Homo sapiens: one gene and its partners. The protein of the gene in region 2 interacts with the protein of the main gene of each other region in a biochemical or structural test. Each region holds a gene or a part of one and is shown on either strand. Other genes may lie near its edges.

Region 1 (7,022 bases), on a different chromosome or scaffold from region 2:
TGTGCCAATCACTGTGTTACCGTACTGGCTCCAGGCTGGGCTAAGATGCCGCACAAGCATCCTTTGCTCTACTTACCCTCCCCCAACCTCTTCTGCTGCCACAGCCTCTATTCAACAAGTCACACAGTCTATTCACAGCCCCATCCTAGTCACAAGATTGAATGTCAAAAGATATCTGGCTGTTTCTATAGCTAAAACACACCCTCAAATGACAAATATTCACCATCACTGAAATATTCCCGAGAAGGTGGTTCAACAAGAAAGAAAGATGGTTTTGAAAGAAAACCAACCATTCCAGAATGCAAAACTAAACCATCACAAAGTGGCTGCATGGAGGACCATGCCCCCTTGGGGAGCCCAGTCTCACTTGGTAGTTGGATTATCAAGGGCACACCCCAGGCATTGTAGCCTGGGTTCAGTCAGCCCAAACACTGAATGCCAGAGTTGCTAGAAGTATGGCTTCTGCATCTCTTCTGGATCAGAGATGAACCTAGGGGTGCAGTGGGGTAATGAGCCCACAGGGTTCCCCCATAATAGACCTTACCTTCTGCTACAGTTGGATCCAAGGGCACCTCCGAGGGAATCAGTGAAGCTGCGAGGTGGAAAAGGAAGAGCTCATTGATGGTAGCCCTTGCTTGGGGAGGGCTGGTCCCTGGCTTCCTCAGCTCTCAAGCAAGAACTGGAAGCCAGGGCCTAAGGGCACCCTCCATTGCTAAAAGCCAACTATGTGCCAATCGCTCCATCACTGAAATGGCCCCAGGCTGGGCTAGGATGCCACACCAGCATCCTTTGCTCCTGTTACCCTCCCCACACCTCCTCTGCTGCCACGACCTGTATTCAAAAAATCACCAAGTCCACTCATAGCCCCATCCTAGTCACAAGATCCAATGTCAATGACAACTGGCTGTATCTATAGCTAAAACACACCCTCAAATGACAAACATTCACCATCACTGATATACTCCTGATAAGATGGTTCAACTAGAAAGAAAGGTGGTTTCGAAAGAATACCAACCTTTTCAGAATGCCGAAATAAATCACTCACAAAGTGGCTGCATGGAGGACCATGTCCCCTTGGGGAGTCCAGTCCCACTTGCTGGTTGGATTATCAAGGGTACATCCCATGCATGGTGGCATGGGCTCAGTCCAGTCCATACGGCAAATGCCAGAGTTGCTCTAGAAGTGAACATTCTAACCACAAACTCCTCTTTGGGGAACACGCCATGGGACAGTGTCCTTGAAGGTTTCTTTGGGAACTAAAGGACCCCTTGGTGTCCACACACTTCCTGGCACTACGCAAACAAAGGAAATCAACACTGGGATTTGCTGGGTTGGGTCCAGGAGAAGTTCTCTTTTCCATTGAGGATATTAAGTAGCTTTTATTTGTCATTTAATTCCAAATAAAGAGAATGCTTTGGTTCACTCCTCAATTTGATGTTGGTATACATTTATGTTTTAAGGACCAGCAGTTCCTCCATCCTCGTCAGCTTTTAAAGGAGGAGAAACTGCCACTTAGGAAGATATATATTTGGTATCCCAGGCCGGGGGTGGTCGTGATGCTGCTCATCAAAACCACTCCATGAGGTGATTGCATCAGCAGGCTCTGGGGGGTGAGACTGAAGCCTGCCTCCACTATATCCAGCTTTAGAAGGACTGGCCGATGATCCCTTGACCTTCATTGTCTATGAAAAGGGCCAGTACCACCTGCCCTCCAATATCAATTAAGACATGACTTACTGCAAAGCAGGTAAGCTGTAGAGCACACACATATGTACGCACACATACTTATGTGTGGTAATATTGACTCAGAGTTGCAGATACACAGAGCAAGGTGATATCCACACTACCTGAGCACATGACACCAGCATCTTCCCTGTGGCCACATTCGTGGTTGTACCATCCGCTGTGGGGACAGCTTGACAGGTAGGACTCCCTTCCCAAGCAATGCAAGTCACCCAAGGGAATGTTACCCAAGCCCTGACCAAAGTGGGCCCCGCCCAGGGCTGACATGGAATAGCCACAGCCGAGCTGCCTGCAGACAACATCTGCATCCTGGGCGTCCCAGCTGTCATCACACATAGTGCCCCATTAGCCTTGGTACAGGACCTCCACCCGGCCCTGACACCGGTCACCTCCATTCACCAGCCTCAGAGGCAGACCTGCAGTGACACAGCCAGAAGCTTTTATCTTGGTGCTCTCGGCCCCCTTGACTTGCATCCCTACCCTCCTCACTCCTCCTTCTTCCTCTCACCACCCTGCTTATTTACAATCTTTCTCCCAGCAGGATCTTAAGTATCCTTGTTCTTCCATGTTCTCTCTTTGCCCTCTTCTCATTCTGTATTTTCCCCCTGGAGAACCTCATGTACTCTGAGAACTTTCCAGAAGACCCCCAAATCCACCTCTCTGGTTCTGACTCAGCCCTGACAGCCCAGCCCTGAGCTCTAGACCAGCATTTTCAGTGGCCTCCTGGCCATCCTACCCCCCACATCATCCCAAACTCAACACAGCCTCTTCCCTCCGTTTGAATTAAGGATGTCATCATGCTCCATATTAACCATGCTGGGAATAAGGGCATCATATTCGACTCCTCCTTCTCCTCACATCCTACATCTAACATCACCAAGGTCATTCCTTCCGTGTCGTTCCCACTGCCATTTCACTGGGATAAGCCTTCATCCCCTTGAACCTGGCCTCCTCCCAGCTGAATCCTCAGTGTCTGCTCTTCCTTTCTCTAGTCCATCCACATTCATTGATTCAATCAGCATCGATGGAGTGCTTACTCTGCACCCATTTCTATACTAAGAGGATTCACTGGTCTCCAGGTGGTTTTCAAGTTTTATCTTTAGAAAGTACAAATATATTCAATTCAATTCCTTGCTCAAAATGCTTCAGTACACTCTCCAGTCCCATCAGGATCAAGTCCAAGAGCAAGCCTCGACCTACTTTTCCAGCCTCCTCTCCTGGGAGGGGCTAATTGAGCCTGCTTCCCACCATGGAGCTGGCCATGCTGGGAAGTCAATAAGCACCATGTTCCTGCCCGACGTGATGCCACTAGACCACCCACTGGGGTAAGCTGTATTGATGGTGTGAGGAAAATAGGTACAGGTCCTGAGGGGTGCAGCCCACCGTCCTGACAGTAGGAGCCAGATCCTGGGTGTGGCTTTTCAATGGTGAGTTTGAGATTATGAGAAACTTGTGGTCACAGAGTGAGAGGCTGGAATGGGATGCAAAGGGAGGGGGCAGGTTGCTTTTCCTCCCAGAGGGAGGAAAGGCCAGCTGGACCATCTTCAGGGTATCCCCAAAGTACATTCTGGACTTCCCATGCTCTGTCCTTCCCCAGTCTCAGGGACATAATCCATGGAGATGCCTGTTCAGACCTGAGGCCTTATTCGGAAGGGCCCCTCTTACGAGCAAAACACCCTACCTTCTATGCCATCTGCAACTCTTCTGGATCAGAGATGAACCTAGAGGTGCAGCAGGGCAATGCGCCCCCTCCTGGTCACCCTGTGAATGGTCCCTCCAGGAGAGTGCTCGGTCTCCCTGCCTCAGCCTCTCCCTTGCTCTGTGTTGGTCAGAAATCTGCCTTTCCCAGGCCATTTCTGGATCTCTCAAGTCATGTCCTGGAAGGGGAGGGACTGACCTCAACAAGGCCAAGGGCCCAGGAGCAGAGTCATCCTAAGTGAACACATGGAAGGCCCTGAAAAATTAAACTTGGGCACAAAGTTCTCTGCACATTCTCACTGGAGAGGCAGGGACATTTAGCCAAAGTCAAAGACCAGGGCAGGGGTAAGAGGAGGCACCCATCCTAGCCTCAAATCTCTGCCCTGCTACTCACCAGACACATGATCTTAGACATAGAAATATTGACAAATTAGCTAACTGTGCCCTGGTTTTCCCATCTGCAAAATGGGTATAATCGTATTACTTACCTCAAAGTGTTCTTGGAAAGATTTCATGATAATAGCACTCACTATGTGCATTAGTTGAGCACTTATTAGGTGCCAGGTGGTATTTTAAGTATTTTTTAAAAATATATCAATTCATTTCATACATGAAAATCATTTTATGCAGGGTATATAACAAGTGCTTGGTAGATGTTAGTTATCTTCAAGATACCTGTCATTATTAGTGAAAAGAAAAGGTAGGCCGGGCGCAGTGGCTCATGCCTGTAACCCCAGCACTTTGGGAGGCCGAGGTGGGTGGATCACGAGGTCAAGAGATCAAGACCATCCTGGCCAACATGGTGAAACCCCATCTCTACTAAAAATACAAAAATTAGCTGGGCGTGGTGGTGCGCACCTGTAGTCCCAGCTACTCTGGAGGCTGAGACAGGAGAATTGCTTGAACCCAGGAGGCGGAGGTTGCAGTGAGCTGAGATTGCACCACTGCACTCCAGTCTGGTGACAGAGCAAGACTCCATCTCAAAAAGAAAAAAGAAAAAGAAAAAAAAAGAAAAGGTACTGACCTTTATTTTCAACTATCTCTCCTCACACCAAACTGAAACTAACCTCATCTGATAAATGACTGAGAGTCAGAGAGCAAGAGGAAGGAGAATGACAGCTGGGATTGGCCGAGTGTGCACTTGAGACATGCCCCAGGTCTTGGCACGCACGTCTCCTGTCCCCCCGGCATTCCTGCATTCGACAAGGCAGGCGTTTGCTCTGTGACCTCAGCTGTGCTCAGCCTCAACTAGCCAACAGTAGCAGAGGAGAACTGGCCAACCCCACCAGGGAAGAGGAGTGAAGAAAAGGTCTTACCGTAGTCTGTAGTCCTTGGGATCCACCCACCTGGAAAGAACACAAATTCGTCTTAGAAACACTGTTTAGAAATGATTTCCTACAAGTCACAGAAATTGGCTTTAGCTTCACCGTACAATCACACCAGAGGGCGCTGTGGCTCAATCTTGGGTTTGTGTGTCCCCGACGTTCTTGCTAAATGAATTCTGCAATAGCGGATTAAAGCAAGTGGATTGGATATGAGGAGCTCAATCATTTTAGATGTAATGAAGCATATGTCTCTTTACTAGGCCCCTAACACTACAGCTTATGGTGACAGGATGTAATCTATGCTTGGAAAGAAGGGCTGGACAAGAGAAGACAGCTTAAGCTCGTTGTCCAGTCTGAAATTTGAGTATAGCTGGCATTGACAACAGCCACTCAGATGACCCCTAAAGAAGAAAATATGTTAATGTCAGATATTCTGTTCCTTCTGACTCATAACCTGAAAACATTTTATTCCATCTTGAAGCAAATGGAAATCTAGAGATCCCTGGATCTTTATATTCAGTGAGGCCAGACAAGGTCCATCGGACTCAACTGTAGCTTTTGAGTTTCTTTTTGAGCAGTTCTAACTATACTCGTGAGTGTTGATATTTAACAACTTTTATATATTTTAGAGGTCTTTCAAAGATCAGAGAGAGTATTTATTCATTTAAAAAAAAGGATAAAACTCATCCTATCTTGTAATCACCATATGGATCCATTAGATCCTTTTATAAATCCAAGATTCATTATTGGCTTCTGATTTTATTTTTCCTATGTCTTGAAGCATTTCACTATTTCATCATCCAAGAAAGTATTGCATCATTATTCATCAATTATTAAATAGTAAGAAAATGATAGAATGGTGAAGTTGCCTAGAAGGAAGATGAACTAGTGAAATAAGTCATAATTCTTCCATGCCCAAAGTATTGTATTATCTTTCAAGAAGATTTTTTTTAAGATTGGAGACACTTTCTTCATAGTCTGTTTTTAGCTTTCATTGAATGCAGTTAAAAATTCAAATTTTTTCATTTTCTACTTGTGATGGCAAAGAGAAGAAAACTGACAAGGGAAGATGTTTCTGCAATAATTAGATGAACCAGAAGAGGAATATAGAGACAAGATATAGCACTCCAGATACTAATAATGGTAGAATTGATTGTACAACAGAAATCTCAGACTATGAGTCTTCAGATGATGATATCCTAGATGAATTTCTCAAATTCAAGAATCCAGGGTCAATGATACAATTCTAAGGACAAAAATAAAATACAGTACTCTTACACACTTCGATAGGGATTTCATCACATGATATTTTGCAACAAGAACTTCAACCATCTTATTTTGCTAAAAAAAAAAAATACATGTGATGGTATTCTTTTGTCTTTTATGATGTTTATATACCAAAATGTATGTGATACAAAAAGGTCTGCTATGTTTAAATTCTTATTAACAATTCCAGCATACTTTCTTTCATTATTCCTTTTCTTTTTACTTCCTGGTAAAAGGAGGATTAAGGCATTTGACAAAATTATCAGATTATTATTTTATTTTTAGAGATAGAGTCTTGCTCTATTGCCCAGGCTAGATTCAAATTCCTGGGTTCAAGCGAGCCTCCTGCCTCCAGCCCTAGAGTAGCTGGAACTACAGGCATGTGTCACCATGCCCGGCTCTTCAGATTCTTTGTAAATGTGGGTCCTGAGAGCAGTGACAGTCACAGTTCAGAGATTTGAATTTCTCTAATGGAACCAACAGGCCAGTGACAGGACTTGCCGTATGTCAGAGAACATCTTCACCTGCCTCAACAGCCTGAATATGAGCTCCATGATGGGCTCCCCCAGCTGCCCTGCTTCATATTGATGGCTTAGGAAGGGGGCCACTGAAACCATGTGGCTATGCATCCCTGAAAATGAAGAAGAAACTCGCAATAGAAACCACAACATTCTTTCAACAGAGATAGCAAACTAGGGAACTCTGTACCAGAACATCCCCACCTCTTTTCTGACATGCCATCCCTGCTCCCACACTCAAGAACGAGCTGATAGATGTGCCTAAGAGAGCCTTCCATTCAAAACTCGGCCATTTAAACACAGTCTACCTGACACCATGCAATTCCCACTGCCAGGTCCCAGGTATCCTGCCTAATCCCATGGCAGTCGAACTCATCCAGCCAGAGCCTTGACAAGGCTCATCCACAGCATGGAACACCACATTGAAGTTGTTCCTGGTTCTGCTGTGTCCACACATTTTGAATAGACCCTT
Region 2 (7,697 bases):
CCTCCCCCACTCTGCCTTGAACCCCTTCTGGTTCCAGGAGCTCTCAGAATTGCTAGCCATGGATTTAGCCTGGGGGTGACTGCAGATGGAGGTGAGGGATTGAGGGAGGGGCCTGCACCCCACCTTGGGCTCAAGGCAAGGTGCACCTTGCTCCTGTTTGTGCCTTGGGAGCAACCTGGGTTTCACACTCTGTTGACCATAAGCCTGGACCCAAGTCACCCACACAGAGCTCTACTGCCTAGCAAGGGACCAGGTTCTGGAACAAAGAATGCGTCCTCAGAGAGCCTCATCCTACCACGTCCCCACACGGAGAGGGTGGGCGCCACGTGCAGCCGCTGCTGCCAGGGAGGATCCGGTTCCACCGTGCGCCTGAGCTCCTGGGGTGTCACACAGCGCTCCACGTGGTTCTGGCCAGAAAGGTGACCCTCCCGTCCCCGATGCCAGCCAAGAGGCAGCCCCCAGCCCGCTCGCTGACCCCAGTGGCTGGGGAGAGTGTATGGGGGCTGGTTCTTGCTTTAGGGTATATTAGCCAGCCATGCCCACTGGTAGAAGCCTGGTTCAAGGGAAGTCTGAGCCAGACTTGATTCTTCTCCTGCCAGGGAAGGTCTTCCTCCCCAGTGTTCCCTCAGCAGGGGATCGGGACCGCACTCTCAGGTCCAGCCTGCGGAGTGGGCACAGAGGACCTGGCCCCGGACACCCACACGGAAGCCTAGACACGTCAGTGAAAGTCCAAGTCATAGGGACATTTGAGCTTGTCCCATCTACACTGGGACATCCCCACCAAGTGCTCCGCAGGCATCATCTTGAATGCGTCCAGGCATGGGGAGCTCACCCCCTAAGGCAGCGCCCTTTCTGAGTTTTTGTGCACGTCTGCCTTATGCCATGCTTAGGGGGACCCAAAACCACCCAAGGCAGGTGCCTGCTGTTCATTCTCCCATGTTCCCTGCAAATCCACATGCAGAGCTCAGGGCTCAGGATTCGGGTGCCCTCTGTGCCCTGAAGTAGACCAGTCCAAGTCCCAGCCCCACTCCTTACTGGTTTGTCAAGTAGGAAAGCCTGTGACCTCTTTGAGTCTCAGTTTTCCCATATGAGGCAGGTGCAGAAGAAAGCGGTCACCTCAATTTTCAGGTGAGAAGGTGGAGGGACACAGAGCTTAGAAGTCGTGCCAGTAGCTGAGCAAAGCTGGTATTGGATCAAGGACTAGGAGACAGAGCTACAGAAGCATGTCCAAATGTGAGCTCATGAAATAGTTAGGAAAGACCCTCCCTCCATTTCAGAACCCTGTTGGGCCCTGGGAGTCAGCTCTGTTCCTGGCTCTAGCAGGGGCCTGACCCAGGCTCTTGATCTAGGAACCACGGTGGGGGTGTTGCCCAACTCTGCATCCAGTTTCATAAAGAGCAAGAGCCAGTGCCCCTGCCATGCCTGGCCTCCCCACCCGGCCCGCACCTACCTCTCTCTCCAATGACACCTGCCTCTCCCTTTGGCCCTGGGGCCCCGGGCAGCCCCGGGCAGCCTCGGAGAATGGTGAGCTTGTCAGAGCCCTCCAGGCCCACCACCTTCACCTCTGCAGAGAAACACAGGTGCCCACTCAGTGCCTGGCCCAACAGTGGCTGGGAAGTGAGGTTTTCTGCTCTGCTGGGGCCTTGGTCTGTCCTCACCCCTCAGGCACTGGTGAGGCGGAGATGTGATGGGGGGCAGAGCTCTGGCTTTGGAGGCCACCCCGACCTAGGGGAGCCCCATCTCCTCAGTGCTGTGTGTCCTGCAGCAAGTAACTTAACTCCTCTGAGCTTTGTGCCCTGGGCTGCCAAGCGGGGATAATAACAAGGTTGCGGCCAGGATTTGGTTAAAGAATGTGCATTTTAAATCTCTTATTGTAATTTATGGCATTTAGAAAGAGCTTAATAAACAGCGGGCACTTTCAATAACTAATGACAATCAATATTTCTAAGAAACTTGGGGAATTGGGGCTGACAAAGCATTTTCCCTCCCAGACCTTGGGAATGTGGTTGTAGAATTACTGGGCTGGAAGGGGCTTTCTAGGTCCTCTGGAGAGGGGCAGTGTGGGGTCCAAGGACACAGAGCCAGGTGTGGCACAGCTGCAGCCAAACCAAAGTTGTTTACTTCTTTGAAAAAATATTTTTCATTTTGTTCATTACAAAATCTACACGCCCTGCTAAGGGCGCTCTTAGAGACCATGGAACGGAGCAGTGCTCTCACCGGAGACATGGCACTGCCATTTTTGGGGTATTTCCTTTCTGTGTTTCCAGTCCTCCTTCCACTAGAGCAGGCTGTAATTTACTATTTATGTTTCCTTCATAAATATGTTATCAGCCAGGGGCACCAGGCCGTCCTTAGGAGCAGTCTCTTGCTGAGCGTCACAGAACCACCTGCTCCTGAATCAGTGAGGGAAACACCTTACCACCGTTCAAACCCTTGTCCCTATCAACTGATTCCGACTCTCTTGGAGGAGAGCCAGAAATCTGCCTTTTTAACAAACCCCCCAAGTCCGTGTGGCAGCCACCGTATTAGAGGGTCTTAGAGTGCCTCCCTGGTAAGCCCGTAAGAAGATAAAGTCAACAGTATTTTCTTCCTTCTCAGTGACAGATTCCAGACCCACCTATGAAGCTCCAATGGGCAAATCCTGGGCTTTCGAGGCAGACAGACCTGGTGACATCCCTCCCCTATCCCTCCATGACCCTGGGCAATGCCTCAGCTGCCCTGAGCCTCCATGTCCTTGCCTGAGGATAAAACAGATCTGTTGGGCATCTTCACAGGAAGATGTGCATAAAAGGTTTTGCCTGGGACACCCGAGTGTCAGTGAGTGGGGTTGTTACCAGCTTTTAGGGACCAGAAAACCCAGGTCTGTCTCACCTGGACATGTGTCCGCAGCCTGGGCAGGCAGGTTCTTGATATGCAGGAACAAGACTAGCAGGACAGCGAGCCCCCGGGCCATGGTGGCTCCACTCAGCTCCATGCTCTCTGGCCTTTGACTCTGAAGAGTCCCCCAGCTCTAACAGGGCAGAGGAAACCAGCTCTCGCCTTGTGCCACAGTTTCTCAACTCCCTGGGGGACACCCACTTCCTATGGGCTGCTTAGTTGCACCAACAGGAGGTATGAGGTCATCTCAAAGGATGTTTCCTTCCACTAGGCTCCAGCAAGATGCCCACCCCATTGGGCTCTCTTCCCCCAGCAAAGACACCCTGCTCCCAGTCCAGAGAGCTCCTGAGACTCCTCTGCTGGAAAGCATCGGCTTTGCTTGTGGCTTAAGGAGAACACAGCCCCCACACCCCCTTTCCATTCCCCAGCTGTCCCCAAGCAATACTCGGAAACCTTGACCTTAACCTTGGGGGATAAGGAAGGTTTTGCTGAAGACGCTTCCTTGCCTCATCTGTTCCCAGAAAATTCAGGGTTTGTCCGTCATCAGGCACTTATCATGGATGGAGAGGAAAAAAATGTTGAGCACTTGTTATGTCCCAAATACTATTTCCATCATATCATCTTGCACCAGCCCCATTCGGTGGAGTAAATTATTTGAAAGTTACAGCTGGAGAAATTGAAGTCACTCCACTAGTAAGAGCCAGGCATTGGACTCAATTCTGTCTAACGCCTTGTAGATCACTGGGATTGCTCATTTCACCTGAAGGTGGGGATGCCTCTTGTTCCCCCAAATCCCTGAGGCCATGTTCCTACTCCGCATCTCGTGCTGTGAATCATGCTTAGCCAGGCCACGCTGTGGACACTTTGTGCGGGATTTTTAGAACGTATAGAAATAGTCACTAACGAGAGTCAGATGGTAGCAGGACTAAGGAGCAGGGAGAGGTGTTGTTTTGTGGTTTGCAACTTCTCTGAGCCAGCGTGTGTAGACTGGGTTTCCAAACTCAAGGGCTCCCCAGGTGGGAGAGAAGTGGAGGGGCGGCCCAGGGGTGGGGGATCCAGGAGACACAGGACCTTGTGTCCAGGCTCTCTGGGCACCACAACGACTCTCGACTGTGTGTGTTTGTGTGTGTTGGCTCCAGCCTGTTGAGAGACAACGGCAGGAGGCTTCATTGCCTCAGACACCGCTTAGTGTCCCTGAGCTACTGGCCCAGGCGGGAGAGGTCTGGGTGTCAGTGGTGCGGCCTCCTTTCTTGGAGAGGATCCAATTCAGGAGCAGCACTCACCTGGGATTGGGTCAGAACAGGGAGAAAGCCAGCAGGTCTGTGCCCCTCAATTCCATTTGCCAGCTGCCCCCTGGGTGTGAGGGGACCTCCTCTTCCTTGCAACATCAATAGGTTTATTTCAGGTGAGAAGTCAACACCACCTTCAGATATCAAGTCAATGTTCCCAAGAGTATGAAAGAATGCAAGATTCTGGCAAGTTAAAATATCTTAACATTGGATCAACAAAAGTCATTTGATTCCTGGCAATGGCAGTTTAGGTATTTGGGGGCATCCTATTAAGGACAAACAGACAAAACCTTTAAAAAGAGATTTGCTCGAAGGCACCGTCAAGCTAGCTATGTAGTAAAGGATTACTTTGCCAAGCTCTCAGGAGCCACAGAAATCTTAGAGAAGTGAAACTAGTAGTGGGGACCTCTTTTTGCACAGGGATTTGCCAATCTCCAAAAGAGAGGTGAGAAGTTGGGCAGTGATTTCACCATCTTGCAGAGCTGAAGGTCAAAGACTGGGGCCTACGGCCTGCCAAAGGTATGGGTTTGGGGTTGGCTTTCAGAAGGGCTGCACCCTAGCAATAGGATGAGTGAGCAACAACCAACATTCACAAGGGCTGCAAACTGGTTTTGAGACATCTAAGTGTCCCAGGAAAGGAATCTCAACTCCTGGAATTATTGCTCATGCCCCCAGGCTCCTTGCTGAAAGAAACAAAAATCTTCTCTGAAGGAGAATGACATCATCCCAGGTCATTATTTCTGCAAAGTGTTTTATTTTTTTCAAATGAAATGTTAAAACACAATCAACGATAACCAGGCTCATGGGAATAAAAGACAATGTGTATAAGGACCAACAGAAACAACAGAATATAGAAAGAGGTCTTTGGAAGCTGTGGATACAGAAGTTACAACATAATTAACAGGAAAAATGGAAAACCATCCTCAGAGACTGAGAACAAATAAGGATGCTTGTCATCACCACTGTGGTCAACATTGTATTGCATGTCACTGTCCAGTGCAGTAGGCAAGAGAACAAAACCATAAAAAGATTGGAAAGGCAGACACAAAGTTGTTATTTTCAGAAGACATGATTGAGGATGTAGAAAATTCTAGAGTTTCTACAGATAAACTAGCAGAATAAAAAGTTTAGCAAAAATCAATTGTGCTTCTAAAAACTAGCCTCAAAGAATTTAAAAATGAAATTTAAAAAATTTGCATCAGCAACACCAAATTCAAATAACTGTGAATAAGTCTAACAACATCCATGCTGGTCTTCTGTGTACAAAACTATCAAATAGGAACAGAAAGACCTAAAAGAAGATTAAAATAATTAGAAGGATATTCTATATGTGTGGATTAGAATACCAAATATAGGAAAAACATTCATCTTCTCTTAATTTATCTAAATATCCACTGTATTATCAATTAAACTACCATTTTCTGTGACAATTGACATGGTGAATTTAAAATTTATATAAAGGGCCGGGTGCAGTGGCTCACACCTGTAATCCCATCACTTTAGGAGGCTGAGACAGGTAGATTACTTGAGGTCAGGAATTCAAGACCAGCCTGGCCAACATGGTAAAACCCTGTCTCTACTAAAAATACAAAAATTAGCTAGGCATGATGGTGGGCACCTGTAAACCCAGCTACTTAGGAGGCTGAGACAGGAGAATTGCTTGAACCCAGGAGGCGGAGGTTGCAGTGAGCCAAGATCGAGCCACTGTACTCCAGCCTGGACGACAGAGTGAGATTCCATCTCAAAAAATATATAATATATATATTTAGCAGGGTGTGGTGGTACATGCCTGTAGTCCCAGCTACTCAGGAGGCTGAGGTGGGAGAATTGCTTGAACCCGGGAGGTGGAGGTTGCAGTGAGCCGAGATTGCACCACTGCACTCCAGCCTGGGCAACAGAGTGAAACTCTGTCTAAATAAATAAACAAATAAATAAATAAATAAATAAAATTTATATAAAGGCAAGAGGCTGATAGCCATGCTATTCTTGAGCAAGAAAAAACAAGGGTGAGTTGCTTGAAGTGACACCAGCAGTCATTATCAAGCGATAGTGATGGAGACAGTGTGGGGCTGGCTTAGGCGTACACAGCAAACCTAGGGAAGTGAGTAGGGAGTGCAGAAGCAAATCCAGGCACATACGGACCCTAGATTTATGACATGGTGGCTCTAAAGAGCAATAGTGAAAGAATAAACTTTCAATGAGTGGCACAAACTACTGGAGAGTCATATGGAAAAACAAGAAGTTACACTTGACTTTTATCAGATGAAAAAAAAATCCACATCAGGAGAAGGGTAGACCCAAATGTGAGAGGGAAAACAGCAGTTTTAGATCATATTATAAGATCTCCAATAGCCTTGCAGTTATTTTAAATAAGATGGAAAACCACAAACCATAAAGGACAAGTGGAAAAATTGATCATGAAAATAGTATTATTTCTTTTTCAAAATACACCACCGTGGGAGGGAAAAGACGAGCCAGGGTGAGGGAAGAGAGGTTTCAACACACAGAAGTGACAAAAGGCTTGTATCCAGAATAAAGGGTTTCTGTAAATCAACGATGTTGTAGAAAGTGGGAAAGTGACTTCAACAAACGCTTATAAAAGATAATATTTAATAGATGATGGAAGTATGAAAACATGCTCAACTTCATAACTAATCCAAGAAATGAAAACTTAAATCTCATGAGATGACTGCAGACACTAAAATTTTTCTAAACAGCCAACTCTGCAAGGTTTTGGTGAAGAAGTGTCAGAAACCTTGGTACAAGCACTTCGGAAAACTGGCAGTATTCCCAACAATTCCCTACGACCAGCATATTCCATAACCAGCGATGTTCAGCTCAGTTCTACTCAACAGAGAGGTGTGCCCAGCTGGAAAGAAGACACGTGTGAAAATGTCCAGCCCCACGCCGGAAACAACCCAAACGTCCATCCGCAGCAGAATGGGGCCGTCAGCTGAGGTTCGTTCATACTGGAGCATCCTGTAGACCCATAAAATGATCGGATTCCAGCTTCACGCAAAAGCTTTGTTGAAATCCGCAAGCACACGGAGCATCCAGGGCGCCAGCACTAAGGCATGCGAACTGTTCATTTGCATCTGTACAGAGTTTGAAAGTGGGCAAAACTGAACAGCAGTGTGAAGGAATGCATGCTCGGTGGCAACGTGGAGAAAAAGGCCCAGACCATGCCAGTGAGATGACCGCTCCCTTAGCAGGGGCCAGTGAGACGACCGCTCCCTTAGGAGGGGGAGCCCTTAGGCCTGGAAGGGGCACGGGGGGCTGGAGATGGGTTTTGGCTTCATTGGGTGATGCAGGTTTAGTTTATGCACTCTGGTGAATGGGTGTTAAATTTCACTTAAAAGAGCAAGCTTAAATAAACTATTTAAGTAAAATAAATAGAACACATAAGGGTCACCATCGTCCTGTATTGCTCCCACCACAAGCTATAGCCCAGCTGTCTCTGGGAGGTTTGGGGATGTTGAATGCCTGCTGGTTCACTTCCCTGTTGCAGCTCAGGCTTCTGGGAGGTTGAGC
Region 3 (7,196 bases), on a different chromosome or scaffold from region 2:
GAGGTGCTGGCTCTGGGCCGATGCTGCCGGGCACCCCACAGGAGGTAGCCGCCCTCTCTGGCTCAGTCACCAGCACGAGGGCAGGGCCACTCCTTTGGGGCTGCTTGTCACGGGTGCCCTTTGCCAGCCTCCAAGGACATCCTTCCTTCTCTGTCCCTCTCCCCTGTCCTCAAGCCCCGTCCCATTTTGAACCTCTGCATAGCAGGATTCAGATTCCCTTCCAAGCGCATCAGAACTAAGGCTAGCTCTGGCTGGGCATGGTGGTTCACGCCTGTAATCCCAGCACTTAGGGAAGTCGAGGCGGGAGGATCACCTGAGGTCAGGAGTTCAAGATCAGCCTGGCCAAAACGGAGAAACCCCGTCTCTACTAAAAATACAAAAATTAGCCAGGCGTGGTGGCGCGTGCCTGTAATCCCAGCTACTCAGGAGGCTGAGGCAGGAGAATTGCTTGAACCCGGGAGGCGGAGGTTGCAGTGAGCCAAGATCGTGCCACTGCACTCCAGCCTGGGTGACAGAGAAAGACTCCCTCTCAAAAAAGAAAACAAACCACCAAAAAAGAACTAAGGCTAGCTCATCTCACCAGTCCTTTATGATCTAAACCAGTGCTGTCCCCGGTGGCAGCTGCTGGCCACATGTGGCTAATGGAGCACTTGAAATGTGACAAGTCCAGATTGAGACGTACCCTCGATGCAAAATACACACCAGTTTTAAGACCTGGTACAAAAAAGAATGCAAGATATCTCAATAACTTTTATTTTGATTGGATGTTGAAAGGATTATACTTTAGATATGTTGTGTTAAATATATTACTAAGAATAGTTTTACTTATGTTTTCTTTTATTTCATATGGCTACTAGTAAATTTAAGATCATAGGAGGGGCTGGATGCGGTAGCTCACACCTGTAATCCCAGCATTTTGGGAGGCCGAGGCGGGCGGATCACCTGAGCTCAGGAGTTTGAGACCAGCCTGGCCAACATGGTGAAATCCGGTCTTTACTAAAAATACAAAAATTAGCTGGCAGTGGTGGCGGATGCCTGTAATCCCAGCTACTCGGGGGCTGAGGCAGGAGAATTGCTTGAACCTGGGAGGCAGAAATTTTAGTGAGCGGAGATCACGCCACTGCACTCCAGCCTGGGTGACAGAACGAGACTCCGTCTCAAAAAAAAAATCTGAACTTTGTCTGGATAGCGACGGAGGGTGTCTGAGCAAAGCACGATGTTCTCAGAGCCATCCAGAGACTGGGAACTCTGTCCTACCAAAATGGGTGCACCCAGAGGAGCTGGAAGATAGAGATGCCCTGTGGGTGACTCATCTGGTTGCCCCTTGGTGGCACTGAGCCAGGCAACAAGCGGGAAAGGCTTGTCAATGATAACGGCAAGACCAACGATCACCAGGCAGCCAGGTGCACCCGGTAGCCCTCTGTGGGCAATTCTGCATGTATGACCTTATTTAGTCATACAGCTAGGCAAGGAGGTGACACTAAGCATTTGAGTACTGATGGGGTCTTGAATGAACAAGTAAATGAATGAATGAATGGATGGTGGCCGATGACTGTCATCTCTAGTTCTTACATTATGTATCTTATGCATCAGACTACACGGCATGGATATTCAGTGCAATGGATTTGATTGTGAATTGAGGCCCCCTTTTGCAATCTTGTTGCATGTTATGTTCGTGGAGCTCCTGCAATGAGCAGAGGCTGCTAAGCAGAAGCAGCGCACAGGCTGGGGGCAGGACACAGGGCCCCCGGCCTCAGGGGAGAGGTCTGTTCCAGCCACCTCAAGTCTATTCCTGTGAGTGCCCCTCCACACCCCTCCTGGATCCCCCCACTGCAAACTCTCTCCCCCTGGCTCCGGACTCTCTCCCCGTCCTGGAATTAATAAAGACTCTGTGCAGACTGCGGTTTGCAAGTCTGAAAGCTGGTTCCTGCCCGTGTCACTGCCTCGAGAAGAGAGGGGTCCAGCTCCCCACAGTAGCCCCTGCCTTCCTCCTTCCCAGGCAGGCGGAGGCACGCAGATATACCATTGACTTCCCCTCCCCTGCAGCAGGCACATCCTGGGCATCGAGCTTCAGACCCTGCCCCTGAGCAGCCCCTAACCCCACCAACAAAGGGTGGCTTGGGGGGGCTTTCACCCCAGCATAATCTCCATCAGCTACCCTCAAAGCACCCCCAAATAAACACACACCGTAAGTAAGAGCTGTACACTGGCTGTGTGCGTACATCTTCAAGACAATTCTCCCAGCATGCCCCTACCTTCCAAAATTCCAGAGCTGCTCCCTCCAAAGACCCAGGGAAAAGGAAGGGTTTGTCCAGGGTCCTGGGGTGGCCCCGTATAGACCAAAGCCTGATAGCTGTCCTAGAAGCAGAGTACTTGCAGAGCGAGTGACGGCAACTGTGGTATTGACACCAGTCCTAGCACCAGCTGAACACAGAGCATTTTTGATCTAGCAGAAATACAAGACCACGTTGTATTTGTCTTTGCAATAATCTCTTAGCTAGGAATACTGATCACCTGTAGACAGATAAGGAAACTGATGCTCTGTGGAGAGGTTTTCCTACCAGAAAGGCTAGAGCCAGAAATTTACTTCTAGGTCCACCAATACCTGCCTTTGACCAATGCCTGCATTTGACCTTTCCACGCTGAGCCACCCCTGCTGGCACTCCAGACTGCCACAGTGCTCCTGCCTCCACAAGGGGTCTTTAACTCATCCCTCGGAGCCATCGTGGTGCAGGGAAAAGCCCACAGGGCGTGTGGCTTCCATGCTGTTCCCTGACTGGCTGTGACCTAGGACAAGGAACAAGTTTCCCTCTCCTATTCTCTAGGTCTCACATTTCTTCTCCTCTAGCAGTAGTGGGAAGTGAGGGGTGGGGGACACGACCCTCCCCTGTTCCATCCCACACTCCAACCCCCAAAATCCCCCAGGGTCCCCGTCCAGCTCAGTCCTGGGGGCAGAAATGCAGAGTTCTCCAGGAACGTGGTCCCAGCTGTTTCAGTGCAGGCCGCCCCCTCCTGGCCACCAGCGGAATGTCAGCCTTCCCAGAGGGGCCGGGAGAACAGCAGTCGAGAAGCTCCCAGACTGGTGTGGGCGCTAGCTGTGCTCAGCGTGGGGATGGGAGGTGACCCAGTGATAATGGGAAGCTGGGCTGCCTGTCAGTCTGCGGGGGGCTCCCACCTCCCTGTTCCCCCACAGGGCACCTGGGGATCCAGCCTGATTTTTACCAGACCCTGCGGCCTGCATGGGGCTGGGTATAGGGCTGTGACCTTGACCCATGCAGAATAGAACCCTGTGTGTCGGGATCCTCCATGTGCTCCAGATGCCCCTGGGGACAGCACCAACATGGCCTTAACTCCCAAGCCATTCCCCTGCCTCTAACCCCCTGGCATCTGCAGGCATCCACCCCAGACCCACCCAACACCTCCTCCCCAGCTTCAGGCGCTAGGCAGAGACCTTGGCCCCTGCAGAATGCAGCCCTGTCCAGGGTCCCCTACCTTCCCCCCAGATCCCTCCCAGAGCAATACCAACCCGGGCCTACCTTCCAGGCCATTCAACCTGCAGCCCCCCGGCCTCTGTAGACATCGCACCCCCCAAACCCCCAGACCTGCCCAATGCCTCCCCTCCCCAGCTTTGGGCAGAACCTGTCTCTAGCCAGACCTGGGGGTGTTGGGGAGTCTGGAGGGCCGGGGTGGGGGCTGAGGCGCGGGACAGCTGGCCCGTATCCTCACACTGGGCCCGGGGCCCAGCCGGAGGGGCGGGGGCCTGGCCACTCGGGCCTTGGCTGGGGCTGGGATTTTTGGCCTGGCCGCCAGGCCCTCCCTTCTGCTTCCTCTCCCGAGGGCTGTCCTGGCAGAGGCCCCCCTCGCTCTTTCTGGCGGGAACAGGGCCAGCAGCGAAAGAACAGTCGCAGAGGGAAAGCGGGAAAGAGATGGGGGAAAGTGTGTGTGTGTGAGTGTGTGCTTGTGTGCATGTGTGTGCGTGTGTGTGTCAAGGAAAAAAGCTCGCAGTCCAGCAGCCCGGGCCTGGGAGGCTTGTGAGCCGGGCCTTTCGTAATTGTCCCCTCCCCGCGGCCCCCTCCCCCAGGCCTCCCCCCTCTCCCGCCCTCCCGCCCGCCCTCTCTCCCTCCCTCTTTCCCTCACAGCCGACGAGGCAACAATTAGGCTTTGGGGATAAAACGAGGTGCGGAGAGCGGGCTGGGGCATTTCTCCCCGAGATGGCGGGTCTGACGGCGGCGGCCCCGCGGCCCGGAGTCCTCCTGCTCCTGCTGTCCATCCTCCACCCCTCTCGGCCTGGAGGTAAGGACCCCTCGCCCCTGTCCCCAGCGCTGCCCACAGCTGCGGGCCCTTTGGGCCAGGTGACTAGACGCTCAAGGGGGAGACCTTCGTCCCTGGGAACTGCAAGGGGTCCCAGGTGGGAGCCCCTCAGCCACTGGGTCCTCGGAACTGCCCCTCCCAGGAGCCAGCCCCGTGCCCAGGAGGAACCTGTCAAAGAGACACCCTCGACTCAGAATAGTCCCAGCCCAGCATCCAGGCTTTGCTGCCCTGCGAGGGCTGAGGGGGCCCCTGCTCAGGTGCCCGGGTGCCCGCCCTGTAGGGGGATCAGAGCATCCTGGGGGAGGGCCCAGCGGGAACCCCTGGGTCTGGAGACACCACAGTCTGCACACCTGTGGACACAGCTGGGGTGCACACCAGCCCTGGGGACAGGGAACCTGGGCTTGATACCAGCTCAACCGCAGTGAGCTGTGTGACCTCAGCAGGTTCCTTGACCCCTGGGAAGCCGGGATCCCCCCGTCAGGAAGGTCAGGGCTCCGCTGAGGATGGGTTTGCAGGTTGGGAAGCTGCTGCTGTGTTCTCCCTGCTGAGGCAGGCAGGGACTCCTGGTATGCATTTGTGTGTGTGTGTGTGTGTGCATGCACACAGGAATGAGCGTGCTGTGTGCTCGTGTGTGTATGTGTGCATGCACAGGTGTGCATGTGTTCAGATGCCCGGCTGTGTCACTGAACAGGGAAAGGGATTTCTGGAGGGGTACATATGTCTGCTCACAGGTTCATCCTTAGGCAGGTGTATGCGTATGTTTGGAGGAGGTATATGAAGCTGCTCCTTAGTGTGTGCAAAAGTCTGCCACCTGACAGACATGTAGACATGTACACATGTAGACATGGGCGATCTGGCATCCAGGTGTGACACTGGTGTGGACTGTCACTGTGTGTGTTATGGAGTGTGTACATCTGTGTGTGTGAATGTGTGTGCGATGTGGCACGCAAGCATGGAAAGGCGGGCTGGAGAAGGTGTCTGTCTCCTGGCAGAGGCAGTGTGGCTGAGACAGAGGCTGGAGTGGATCCTGGGGCACTGCTGGGCCATCTGCTATGTGCCCCAACCCAGGCACAGTTGGTTATGGGGTTTGAGGGTGTGCCCTGTGGGGCTGCTATGCCGCGGCCAACGGGGGAGGACAGAAGAGGCTCCCGGGCATGGGAAAAAGGAGGGCATTTGGTAGGGGGGTCTGGGTGGAGTCTGGTTTCCTCGGGAGTCCTCCTTGCCATGAGAACCAAACGCTGAGTGGGGGGCGGGAGGGCCACGGGGTGGAGTCAAGGGCCTGGGCAGGAGCTGCAGCTGTTTCCGTGAGATTGAACAGCTTCCTGTGCAGGGTCCGCTGCTGGACCTGGATGAGGCCAAGGGACATGGGTACCCACAGGCGGGCCCCAGCAGGGGCAACGAGCCAGGGCCTGAAAGCAGCAGCCCCGGGTCCGTCTCAGCCTCCTCCCCAGGTGTAGCCCCCAAACACCCAGCCACCCTTCTTCCCAGATGGGGCCACCACCTATAGGGTGGCAGTTCATCATCAAGGAACCTTGAGAATTAGAAATTATTATCATCACTTGACAAACAAGGAAGCTGAGGCTCCGGCAGGCTAAGGCAGTCCCCGGGGGTTAGTATCAGCCAGCTCTCTGCCCCAGGTCAAGGGGCAAGGGGGTTAGGAGTGAGCTAGCAGGCAACATTTGGGGAGGGGAAGGCTTGGGGCTGAGTCCTTAAAGCAGGCATGCCCTAGGCAGAATCAGCTCTCTCCTTGTGTCCTCAGTGACACCGCTAAACGCCCAGCTGGCCTCACACTTTGCAGAGATCAATCTCAGCTCTGTCCCAGGTGGCTGGACTTGCTAGGTCCAAATAAGGGGTGTGTGAACTGATGAGCTCGTGTGGGGTTTTGCACAGAAGTGCTACTGAAGTCTGCAGAGGTCGGGGAGCCAACACAGGGAGTGGAGCGCTCAGTCACATGCTCACTGCCACTCACCTGGCTGTCCTGGGGGAGCCTGGCTTCTCCCTCAAGGAGGAGGGTGTCACTTATGCAAGTTCAGCGGCTCCAAGGAAGGAACCCTGTTGCGGGGGTGGGGGAGCAGGAGGAGGGGACAAGCCGCACAGCTCCCAGGCTGTTTCAAAAGTGAGCATGAGAAATTAACCCAGGGATAATTCTTCCCCATCCCCCAGAAATAGTATCAGGGATTTTTTTTTTTTTTTTTCCTGATTTCAGAACTGAAGATGGTTTGGAACAGAGGTTTCCTTTTCTTTTATTTTCCTTTTTTATTTTTATTTTTTTACCTTTTTTATTTTTTTTAAATTGAGACAGGGTCTCGCTGTGTTGTCCAGGCTGGTCTGAATTCCTGGGCTCAAGTGATCCTCCCACCTCCGCCTCCCAAAGTGCTTGGATTACAGGCATGAGCCACTGCCTCTTTTTAAATATTTTTTTAATTATTGTTTTCCGTCCTTAAGTAGGAACAGGGGTTTTCAACCTGGCTATCTATTAGACTTCCCACCCAAGAATCCCTGCTTGCTTTGGTTGGAGAGGGACCTGGACACAGACTTTTCAGGCTTCCCAGGTGACGGTGGGGTCGCCAGGGCCAAGAAGCACTGGTTTAGAGGTCGATCCCGCTCTGTGTGTCTGCCGAGGCCCCGGCATGAGGGCAAATGTGCCCTGTGTGGGAGGGGACACAGTCACCCAGTGGAGGACAGCTTGTTTTTGAAAACCCTTGGCAGCCTTCTGCATGCAAACAACAAACAGCTTCGTGTGGTCTTATCTGCTCCCCAAGCCAGCCCCCTGGACTTTGGTTTGGCAAAGCCCCCTGCCAAGATCGGCTGGCCCCAGGCTCGCTCCCAAACAGGCTGCTTCCAGCTCTTTGAACCTGGAGCCCAGGGCCCAGGCAAATGGCCCT

The links. The genes of interacting proteins can lie anywhere in the genome.
Region 1: the proteins of FCN1 (region 2) and DMBT1 form a complex in vitro, tested with the Homo sapiens proteins (one study listed by IntAct).
Region 3: the proteins of FCN1 (region 2) and ELN form a complex in vitro, tested with the Homo sapiens proteins (one study listed by BioGRID).

The regions. Positions count from the first base shown.
Region 1 is NC_000010.11:122,563,732-122,570,753, reverse strand, and holds part of DMBT1 (scavenger receptor cysteine-rich domain-containing protein DMBT1 isoform e precursor), read right to left. Parts: intron 4,788-7,022; coding exon 4,758-4,787; intron 593-4,757; coding exon 545-592; intron 1-544.
Region 2 is NC_000009.12:134,914,898-134,922,594, forward strand, and holds the start of FCN1 (ficolin-1 precursor), read right to left. Parts: upstream 3,016-7,697; 5' UTR 2,975-3,015; coding exon 2,872-2,974; intron 1,565-2,871; coding exon 1,451-1,564; intron 1-1,450.
Region 3 is NC_000007.14:74,023,977-74,031,172, forward strand, and holds the start of ELN (elastin isoform a precursor), read left to right. Parts: upstream 1-4,196; 5' UTR 4,197-4,211; coding exon 4,212-4,293; intron 4,294-7,196. UniProt on the Homo sapiens protein: Major structural protein of tissues such as aorta and nuchal ligament, which must expand rapidly and recover completely.